Homo sapiens: one gene and its partners. The protein of the gene in region 2 purifies or fractionates together with the protein of the main gene of each other region. This does not show direct contact. Each region holds a gene or a part of one and is shown on either strand. Other genes may lie near its edges. The genes, in order: CNTN1, MCAM and LAMA4.

Region 1 (3,752 bases), on a different chromosome or scaffold from region 2:
TTGTCTTTTTTAGGAAGCTTTTATATTTCAGGGCCCAAGTGCCCTTTCTGTATTGTCTCTCCTGCTAAATTTATCCCAGGACTACCCTGAAACACTGCTTGAACAGGGACTCAGGAACAGCAAAGCACTTGAACATACATACCGCATATCCATTTTTCAACCATCGGATTGTAGGGATGGGCTTTCCTGTGGCCACACAAGGCCAGTAGAGATCACTGCCTATGTCCACCTCTGTGTCATTGATGTGTTCTACCCACTCAGGGAATGCTAAAAAGTAAGGAACATTGTAAATGTTAAATGAAGGGCTCAAGATCCATCATAATCTCCAGAGTATAAATATTACATTTAGTTAACCTAATTCTGCAGAATACATCAGATAGTGTATGCATCCTGAACTCAGTAATAGGCCTTGTCTTTGCATAGGCTTAACCTACGCAAATCCTGTATTATTACAGCAGGAGGTAACTATAACTCAGCCATTATTTTTCCATTTGTAAATCATGTTTTGTTGAAAAGCTGAGTTATAATTATTACTAAAATAACTGATTTTTTTCTGCTCATAACATAAACCTTTCAAGTCTGTCAAAATGATAATTGAGGTTTTAAAGAATTACATCTCAATTCAATATGATACCATCTCTTAACATTTTGGATAAAGACTCAGATATTTTTCCCACTCCCTCAGGTATACATTATCTTCATTTTGATGGAACTTTCAGCTAGTGGCCACGGTAACATCTCACTTTGGCGCTAGAAAAATGACTTGGACACCTAAATATACTCTTTCCATATTAGAAACTATATACAGTAGCCATGATTGGTGAAATCCATGCATTGGTAAAATTGATCTCAGTCTCATTCTTTAGTCTGATCTACTTGATAGCTAAAGAGACATCCATAAAAATGAGAAAATGCTAAAAATTTTCCAAAGAAAAAATATTTTTAGAGAACAAGCAAATAAACAATTTGACAGTCTTTTTGATTATTTCAGTTATCTAGTCCAAATAAATGCAGATAAATAAATTAATACAAAAAGGAAGTAGGAAGAAAGAATCCTGAGTGGAGAATAATATTTAATTTTCTTTGAAACTGGGAACTTGTGTTAATTTTATGGCAAAAGCAATATATGCATCTTATAAAAAACATTTAACAAGTAATAAAATACTAGAAATTTAAAAACTAGAAAACATTTTTATCTCACCAAATACCATCAACATTATACATTATAATGTATACATTATACATGTAGACATATGTACACCTATATATCTTAAAGCATATATAATCTTATTTAGTACATGTTTTCACTCATCATTATATTTGTAACATAGGGAGATATTTTTTAAACTATTGGTGGATATGTTCATTGTAAGGGAGAAAGGTTTTATTTTGTATACAATCTTAGCAATACATAATACAGGAATATCAGCACCCTTCCTGTCTTGGCCTCACAAAGACAACACAGACATTTTCTATTACATCATGTAATGAATAATTGAATTGGCTTGACACAGTCTATATATGGCTTAATTATGTAACCTTCTAGTGATGTGATCAGACCTAAAGATAATACTTAGTATGCTGCATTAGTAAAGAATAAATAATATTTCTCTTAAATTACCTTCTGTAAATATGTGCTCTGTCACCTTGGTTCTTCTAAGGCTTTAGATATTAGACAGTTCAAAATTTTACTCTGTTGAGAACCTGGAGTGTAGTTTTCTTAATATGTTGAATAAAAACAGGTCTATAAGCTTTAGAAACCTAGTAGAAAGTGGTGGATTTATTTCAAAAGTTTAAAGGACCTTACCTAGTATTTTCTTCCTTTTAGGAGGCCATTTCATGCAGACTTGATATGTATTGCATTAATGTTACTGTGGCATTGGACATACGAGTCTGAAGTTCAGAGTAAATGTTTGGGTTAGAGCATTCAGGGTACAGAGTGTGTCTAAAGCCATGATCACGAGTGGGATCATAAATGGAGTGACTGAAATGGAGATGGGGTTCACAGATGGAACCCTGATCACACCAATGTTAGAAAAGTATGGAGTTGAAAGGCAATGGAGAATGAAAGATTATACAAGGAAATTAATAACAAAGTAGGTTGCAGACATGAAGTGCAGAAAGTGAATCATGAAGAAGGGAGGGACCAACTGTGGCAACCACTGCTGTTAGATCAAAAAAAAGTACAACTGAGAATTGATCATTAGCTTTAGCAATATGGAAGTCTGTGGTCATGAAAAGAAAGGTTTCTGTGGAGAGGCAGAGATGCAAATCATGTTGGAGTGCAATTAAGAGAGAAGAAAAACTGGAGATGGAGACAACACTTTTAGAGAGAATGCGTGAATCTGTCAAATTTTTTATTCCTTTTTGGGAGAGACGGGAGAAAGTGAAATGGGACAGTAGCCAGAGTTAAAAACGAATAATATTGTGGAAGCCCTCGATGTTTATTCACTTGTGACCTGCAAAGTTCATGTTGTGGAACATTATAGAAATTATTTCAGTCTGGAAAGTTTCCAGTGTGGCCTGAAAAAAAATCTGTCTTCCCAAATGTAAGTTTATTTTAATGTGTGAAAATCAAAGGTTTGTGCCATGATAATTTTGTCAAAAAAAAAAAAAAAGATTTCTTAAACCAGTGGTTCTCAAAGTGTGACTCCAGGACCAATATTATCAGCATCCTTTGGGAATTTGTTAAAAATACAAATTCATGAGCCCCTAACAGACCTCTGAATGAAAAATTCTGAGAGTTTGGCCCAGCAATCTGTTTTAACAAGCCCTCCATGTGATTTTGATGCATGCTTAAGTTTGCAAACCACTGACTTAAACTAAGTCATAACACATAGCTTCTTCTATAAATAAAAAGATACTGAAAAAAGACAGTGATAAAATGAGTAAACAAACTACATTAAGTGTATATTCTGAAAATTACCAATAACACTTCTATCAATCTATTGCTATTACCTATGGTTCAACTGGTAATAAGTTCGTAACTTCTATAACTCATAGTTGTGACTTCATTAGACATATGAGAAATATTTTATCTTTCTCCATGATGTAACATGCATCACTGTTTTTAAAACCATTAATCATTATATAGTAGTTTTTCATGTATGGAAATGGCTCTAAATAAGATACTGATGAAATTTATACAAAATTAAAATAATGTATCTACCTTGAACATAAATTCTTGCTTGATGTTTATCCTTTCCTCTAATGTTCTCAGCCTCACATTCATAGATGCCTTCATCTTCTAGCTGAATATTGAAGATCTTAAGAACAGCCCCAGAGGTGCTAATCTCAGCAGTGCTTGGCATTGGTTCTAGAACCTTCCGCCATCGGATATCCGGAACAGGACTTTAAATAGAAGATACAAGGGTTAAAGTTTCACACACTTAAAAGACAATTACTTTATGTTTATAGCTAAACAATTATTTATTTCCTAAAATGGTACTATTTCTATATATATTAATAAAAGTGTCAGTATACTTACTTTCCAAGTGCAAAACATTCTAAGGTCACATTTTGGCCCATCAATGCATATACATCCTTGAACTGAACTACAATATCAGCAGGATATGGTTTTGTTGTTCCTAATATTAAGAGAAACACAAATATCCACTAATTATTAGGCACAATATTAGTTATTCTTAAACATGGTAATTCTACAGGATTAGAGCTGCTCCAACATGGAAGCTTTTCTCTGTACAGGTACAGGTCATATCATAATGGATAGACTTGTTTGTTTATGCACAGTA
Region 2 (3,752 bases):
CTCAGGCGCAGGCTGCTCAGCCTCTCCGGGCACACCTGGGGGAGGGAGGCGGGGCCCCCGCAGCTGTGTCAGCTCCGGCTGCTGTCCGCCCCTCCCCTCGCAGCGCTGCTGCAGCTGTTTTTCCTGCCACTCAGAGGGTCTGCAGAGGGCCCTGTCCTCTGAACGCTCTACCCCCACCCCGACCCGCGCCCCACCTGGGCCAGCCCTCTCCCCGTCCAGGAGATCCCAGGTCCTTGGAGCCAAGCAGAGATTGAGCAGAGACTGAGCACCGAACAGCTCCAGCTGAGGCTGGTAGAGGGGCAGAAAGGGGCAACCTAGGCTCGGGGCCAAGAGGAAGGCCCCTTTCCTTCCAGGCCCCCTCCTCTCCGGGTGAGCTCAGAGTGTGGGAATGCAAAGCATGTGCCAGGCTGGGGCACACAGGCCCTTTTGTGTCACCACCGCCAGGGGAAGACACCACTGCTCTATCCTCTGCCCTCCAAAATCCCTGCCCTCACTCCCCAGCGGGCTAACTCTGGCGGAAGTTCCGGTCTCATGCTCCCTCAGCAGCACCTCCATGAACACTCCGCACACACCCGCGGACCCCACCCTAGGTAGCTGGTAAGGATGGAGAGGTCAGAGTCTCCCCCAGGGGTCAGGGCAAGGGCCAGGCAGTGGGCAGGAGTGACGTCAGTGGTGCCAGCGTGCTGCCAGCCCTGTGAGGAGGTGATGTCACTCGACACCATCTGCCTGGGCTCTGGGATGCCTGGGTTGTTACCTTGGCTCTCGGACAAGGAGGGCAGGTGGAAGGTGGGGTCTCCAACCCAGAGCCTCAGACCCCTGACTCCTCCCAGAGCTAGAAGAGCAGGGCAGGGTGGAGCTGGACCGGCTGCAACTGTGGAGCCCGATTTAGCCCTTTCCCCAGAAATAAAGTCAGCCTGGGAGGCAGTAGCCTGGAATACCCCAGGGACATGGTTGGCACTGGGCATGAGGCCAGCGAGCTGGGTATTGCCTAGCCCTCCCCTTCCCCAGCCGGACAGCGGCTGGGACGGCGGAATGGGAGCCAAGAGAAACACGCGACACCGCTGCGGGCCATACAAGGGCAGCGTGGACCCGAGAGCGCCCTGCTACCAGGCGGATCCGGAGAAACGCTCCGAGGTGCCCGGGCGCACTTCCCACCTGAATGTGGTCCCCAAAATAAGCCAGCGGGCGCTTCCAGTATGGGAATCCTCCATCCCTCATCTCTGTCCCCTATGATCCCATCACTCGGGGAGGCGCGAGGCGACCCACACCGCCCCGCAACCCCTGCCAACGCCCAGCTCGGGCGGGAGCCGCCGAACCTCCCGCTCTCGCTCACCTCCAGCCTGGCGTGATGCCCAGGCAGAAGGGGGAAGGGGTGGGTCGGCGCACCCCCTCCAGCGAAGGAAGCTGCCTTTTCCAGCAACAGGCGGGCGCGGAATTCAGGCTTTGAGGATGCGCCCCAGCTGCGCCTCCTGCCCGGCTTCAATTGCGGGCCCCCAGAGTGAGCACCTCAGGGACCACCCACCCCCCAGCACCCCGAAAGGCTGAGCTCCACCCCTTCTCGTTCCCAGAAGCAGCCTCCTCCCCGCCTTCCGAGTGCTGCTCCCGGGATACTCTAGAATCCCGGCTGCAAACTGGCTGCAAAGAAGAGTTGCTCGCGCGCAAGGCGCCCGGGGATCGGGGACCCAGGGAGGAGGCTCGTCCTCCCAGACGCAACGCCCCGACCCCGCCGCGCCGCTGGCTCTGCTCCCTGGCACGCTCCACCGCAGACCCCTAGCCGGGGCGCGGCCCCCCTGCGAGCGAACTCACCCGCGACGCGAGGACAGCAGCAGCAGGCGGCGAGCAAGAAGGCGCAGACCAGCCTGGGAAGCCCCATGCTTCCCGGCCGGAGGGCGAGAGCCAAGTGAGCAGCTCGAGGCTGCCGGGGGCTGACGTCAGGGGGGCGGGGGAGGGGGCCCGGAGCGCCCGGGCCCGCCCCGCCCCGCGCAGCCCCCAGCCCCCGCCCCGCGCGCCGCAGCCCTAGGGGGCGGGCCCCGGCGCCGCCAGCCCGGGAGCTGCGCCTAGGAGCGCTGCCGGAGGTAGGCCAGAGCCGGACTCCCAGGCTCCTGGCTTGGGAAGGCTGAGGGGGTAGTGACAGGTGTCTCGGGGTCTGACTGGCCGAGGTGGCAGCGAGGAGAAGCTGTCCCGGATGCCCGGAGTCGCCCCGGGTCGAAGCCAGCCAGGCTCACCGCTGCTCAGCCCCTGCCAGCCAATGTAGCCCCTAGGGGACCTCCTGGGGGAGGAGCAGTAGCGGACCTGGTCCTCGGTGTCCCCAAGGGGCCTCCCACTTGGGCTCCCCTCCCTTGCCACAGAGAATTCAGGCCGGCCTCTATCGCTTCCCAGAACGATTGCACCACTGCCGCTGCCGCCGGCCTGACACTGCCTCAGCCTCAGTGCTGGCAGCTTTGGGAGAAGAACCCTGCGCCAGTCCCACAGACCCAGAAGTACCTGTATGGGGAGTGCAGACGATGCCTTCTGGGCTGTCCCTTCAAACGCAAGCTCCTGCAAGTCTAGCCTTTGACCAGAGAAAGGAAGGAGGGGGCTGAATTCGCAGGCCCAAGGTGTTCACACTTGTCCAGACCTGGGCCTTGAGAATCATGTTTCTTCCCTCTTCACTCTGGAGCCTACCCTGGAACTCAGTTTCCCCTCACCTAAGAGAAAGAAACAGGGAGAAGAAAGAGTTAATGGGCGAGGGTCCCCAGCCTGACCCTGCAAACCTGTTGCTGTTCCTGATGATTGAAAGGATCCCGGCAGCGCTGATCTTCCCCCACCCCATGTCTTCCCCAGCCCTATTGATTGTGGGTCCATAGCTGAGGGAAGAATCAAATCAGACCTGCTTGGGTGGGGAGCTCTGCAGCTCCCCTTCTCCCAAAACGCCGGCTTCTCCCTGGGTCTTCTGGCCTCTTGAACTAAGGCTCTAGGGAGGGGGAGGTGCTCTTGCCTCACTCTGACCCCAGCAGCCTGGCCTCAGAAAAGGGGTCCACATCTGCTGGCGCGCCTCCACCAGGGAGTGCCAAATAGGGGCCTGGATTTGGGTAGAGGTCTGTTGCCCAGCGGGGCCACCCCTTTGCTCGCTGGGGGAGGTGGAGGGTGAGCCAGCAAACCCTGGAGATGGCCAGGTGACTTGAGAGCATGCTCCGGGGTGGCGTTTTGATGACGCAGAGATGACTGGAAAACCACACCAGGCTTGTCTTTCAGAGCCTTCTCGACCCCTCCTCCAATGCCATTAGTCTCCAGCCAGAGGCTGTGCAGAGCCCAGGCCCACCGGGCCAGGGGCCTGGAGCCTGGAGCCTGCAGGGAGAACAAGAGGAGGACGCTGGCTCGCCCTCCAGAGTGAATGTATGGACTGGCCCCAGGCCCAGAGCTGACTAGATGAGAATGTTTTGTCTGCTGGGCTGGAGTGGGAATGGCTGAAGGATGCCGTTTGCCCTGGCAGGCCCGGCTGGGCATGGAGCTGGCTTCCCTGCCCAACCCCCTTCCTTCACTTAACACCATTAACTAATCATTCGCCTCTCTGGCCTGAAAACAAAGCCAGCTAACCACCAAGGACAGTCAGTTCTGAATTCTTCTTCCGCTGGAGGAGAGTGAAGCCAGGTGGGGGTGGAGGATTTGTCTCTGCGGTGAAAGGGAAATGAGGTCAGAGCCTAGAGCCCAGGGTGACGTCCCTTCGCATTGCCCCACCAAACAAGCACAGAAGACTGTCCTTTAAGGAAGCC
Region 3 (3,752 bases), on a different chromosome or scaffold from region 2:
GAAGGGCGTAACCACCAGCCCACTGCACCACTGCAGCTTTTAAGTCCATCTAAGAATTATGCCAGCAAGCCTAGAATAAAAGCAACTATACTTTAAGATGAAATGTAATTAATTATATCATTTTGAGCTGTTCAAGATTAATTCCACTAAAATCACATCAGAAACCAGGCATTAAGAGGATAGCTAAAGAAATTAGGCTAAATAAAACCCCTAAATGCACTGAATTCTCCAAGAATACCACTCAGAACTCTGGTGACTCATTATTTCTATCCATAAAAAGCTAACGCATAAAATTCCTAGAACTACACACCAAAAAAGTCAACTTTAGTGTGTGATAGTTTTAAAATCAAAATTAAAAATCAAAGAATTTTTTTTCTGCCGGACATGGTGGCTCGCGCCTGTAATCCTAGCACTTTGGGAGGCCAAGGTGGGTGGATCACTTGAGCTCAGGAGGTGGAAACCAGCCTGGCCAACATGGCAAAACCCCATCTCTATTAAAGATACAAAAAATAGCTGAGTGTGGTGGTGAGTGCCTGTAATCCCTCCAGCTACTCAGGAGGCTGAGGCAGCGGAATCGCTTGAACCCAGGAACTGGAGACTATAGTGAGCACAGATCACACCGCTGCACTCTAGCCTGGGCCACAAAGTGAGACTCTGTCTCAAAATAATAATAATAATAAAATAAAAAGGTTTTGTTAATGTAGCCCACCCATGGGTCTAACCATTCATTCCTCTACTGAAAATCCTGCATTATTTGTATATAGTCAAGCATTCAACCTGGGAAACATTCTCTCTAAAAATTATGCATTAATTTCATTAATCAATTACTTAGGATCCTAGGGCACTGTACTGTCACTACCTACAATTAATTGTATGGTGAATTATTCAGACCACTAACTGCTACATGAATTATTACCTCCAGATGATTTCCCTCATAAGCCAAAGGATGGTAAGCTTGGGCAGAATCAAAACCTAAGTTCTAAGTCAGGTCTCCAAAGTAAGCAGAAGTATTAGATGTTTCTACCTCTTATAAGCATTCCTGTTCACTCATTTCTTACCCAAATGATGAAGTACACTGAGCAGGCTTGAAGAATAGTCACACTAATCTAGAGACAATAAAGGGAATTGATCTCTCAGGCCCCTTCCAAATCTAAAACTTTTATGATTATCATTCTAAATATAAAATGCTATTTCCATGATTTATTTTCAGTACACAGCTTCTGCATATTCTTACCCTACATTGCTTAGAAAACTTATTACAGCTGCTTGCTGATGTTTCATTTGCTGTTCTATGTTCTTTCCTGAATTACTGATTTCTAAGTGTTTTCCATCCTTTATCTGCTACTGCTCACATAGCTGTTTGTAAATAATAATAAGCTTTGGCTAAATGGATTTTAATTTTATATTTCTAAGCTCTCTAAATCGCTTTAAATTATATTGCTTCTATCATCCTAACACATTTAATTGTGTCTGTACAATTAATAAGCATAAGGCTTCTTCTAGATTTCTAATTAAGAGGAGAAAGTTCCCTTGGCATACCACAGGGCACTTGTGCCCACACAAAGACTAAGCGAGTTATCATTACCCTATTTATAGTTCTTAAACCCTGAGCTCAGAAAAATTGAATCTTAGTTTATTCGAATTCATTACTTTCTCATTATATTTTATGAACAGGCAAAAATGTAGAGGCTTAAGGGTGAAGGGTAATGAATTAAACAGAAATATTAACCAAGTCCAAAAATAGTGTGGAAGCTAAAATTTCTTTCCTCCTTCTTAGCAAAGTACACATTATAAGTGAGGCCCAGGTGAAATTAACTTTAAAAAACATAGGTAGATCATGAAAATTCACTGCTGAGGCTTTACATGTAAGTGGTAAATTTCAGCCTTGAAAGACAGCTACAATACACAGAAATGTGATCATGGAAAACATGGCAAAACGTTAAAATTACCACATGTCCATAGGACTTCACAAGCAAATAATGTTACTGAGAAATGAGTCAATTATAACTATGTTCTATTTTTGAAATGTAAATCATATTGATGATATGAGCAAATATGTATACTTTTACCAGGAAGTAATATTTGGGCTTGGAATACCTCAATTGCAATCTTTGTTTTTATTTCTTGCTCTTTTCAGAATCTCTACTGACACCACGCTTGGCCCCCAGCAAACCCTTCACAGGCTGCATACGCCACTTTGTGATTGATGGACACCCAGTGAGCTTCAGTAAAGCAGCCCTGGTCAGCGGCGCCGTAAGCATCAACTCCTGTCCAGCAGCCTGACATGACAGAGCACAGCTGCCCAAATACAAAGTTCTTTAGAGCACTGAAAGAAACACAAAGCCAGCCAGGAGGAACAGTAACTCTTCCTTCGGGTGGAAGCTTTCATCGAGTTGAACAGGACTTAAACGAATCATCAGGGACCGGATATTTCTTATTTCTCATTTGGATTCTTAACCTTGAATCCAAAGTGTCTGCAATGGACAACAATTGAAGGAGTGGCAAACTTACTTGTATTGAGAGCACACGCAATTCCTACTGGTGAAATTACTGTTTCTGTTTCTAATAAAATAGAAGGGATTCCAAATAAACACTTGCACACATTTTTGAAGTGCGGCTAGATTCTCAGATTCACCTTTCTTCCAGGGAAGATAACTTTCAATCTATATAAAAATCTCTGTCCTAAAACTACCTTTCTTTATTTTGAAGAGACTTACTAACTTACATATAATCTAAATTAGATGATAGATTTGTTTTTAGCCCTTTTGTTTGGTCTATCAGTATAAGAAGAATATTTTAGGTTTATAGCTGAAGTTATCAAGGTTTAATAAAGTAAATTTCTAACAGAATACTAGAAAAATGCAGTATAATTTAATTTTTTCTAAATAAGAAACACAGGAAATCAACTACTTTTTCCCCTTCCTTATCTCCTTAAAAGAAAAATAAAATTGTACATGAGAGGAGGCTTCTGTAGGTTATTATTACCATTATTGTGTGTTCTATGGGAATCATTGAGGATATCACAGCAAAAACAGTAGGACAAAATCATAAAATTCAATTTAAGAGTACACAAGTCCTTTTATTAAAAGTTTGCTCCTAGCCTGGGCAACATAATGAGATCCCATCTCTGCAAAAAAATTTGTACATGGGCATACACCTGTAGTCCCAGCTACTTGGGAGGCTGAGACGGGAGGATCGCTTAAGCTCAGGAGTTCAAGGCTGCAGTGAGCTATGACTGCTGACTGTACCTGCACTCCAGCCTGGGCAACAGAGTGAGATCCTGTCTCAAAAACAAAGTGTGCTCTCCACATACCTGCAACACAACTAGTCTTATTTCTAAAATGTTATAATCTTTTTTCCAAGTAGCTACATTAATATAGTCTAGAAAAAAATGGACTTGAATAGCTGGTAGAATATTAAAATATAGAAATGAAATAAAAGAATTATATCTAAAAACCTCAACTCAGAAGACAGAAAAAGAGAAAATAGGCCCTGATATCAACAGAATTAACAATACATAAAAGGAGTAACTTTTGAGGGGAGAGGATATAAAATATTTTGAGGAATTACCAAGGGGAATAAAACAATGTTACCTTGAAATGATTATATATATATTACATATTGGTATATATGTCCATACCTACCTATATCCCCTGCTACCCTTCTGTCTGAAATATACAAATAATGATAATGTTGAAGATATCGATAAACATAGCTAATGTCTGTTCATAGAGGACTTACTAAGTGCCAGC

Evidence for each region.
Region 1: the proteins of MCAM (region 2) and CNTN1 purify together in Homo sapiens (affinity purification with mass spectrometry; 3 studies listed by BioGRID and IntAct, with this or other methods). This does not show direct contact.
Region 3: the proteins of MCAM (region 2) and LAMA4 purify together in Homo sapiens (affinity purification with mass spectrometry; 3 studies listed by BioGRID and IntAct, with this or other methods). This does not show direct contact.

Annotation. Positions count from the first base shown.
Region 1 is NC_000012.12:40,933,296-40,937,047, reverse strand, and holds part of CNTN1 (contactin-1 isoform 1 precursor), read right to left. Parts: intron 3,588-3,752; coding exon 3,488-3,587; intron 3,352-3,487; coding exon 3,170-3,351; intron 268-3,169; coding exon 143-267; intron 1-142. UniProt on the Homo sapiens protein: Contactins mediate cell surface interactions during nervous system development.
Region 2 is NC_000011.10:119,315,229-119,318,980, forward strand, and holds the start of MCAM (cell surface glycoprotein MUC18 precursor), read right to left. Parts: upstream 1,903-3,752; 5' UTR 1,874-1,902; coding exon 1,807-1,873; intron 36-1,806; coding exon 1-35. UniProt on the Homo sapiens protein: Plays a role in cell adhesion, and in cohesion of the endothelial monolayer at intercellular junctions in vascular tissue.
Region 3 is NC_000006.12:112,107,968-112,111,719, reverse strand, and holds part of LAMA4 (laminin subunit alpha-4 isoform 1 precursor), read left to right. Parts: intron 1-2,137; coding exon 2,138-2,283; 3' UTR 2,284-3,752. UniProt on the Homo sapiens protein: Binding to cells via a high affinity receptor, laminin is thought to mediate the attachment, migration and organization of cells into tissues during embryonic development by interacting with other extracellular matrix components.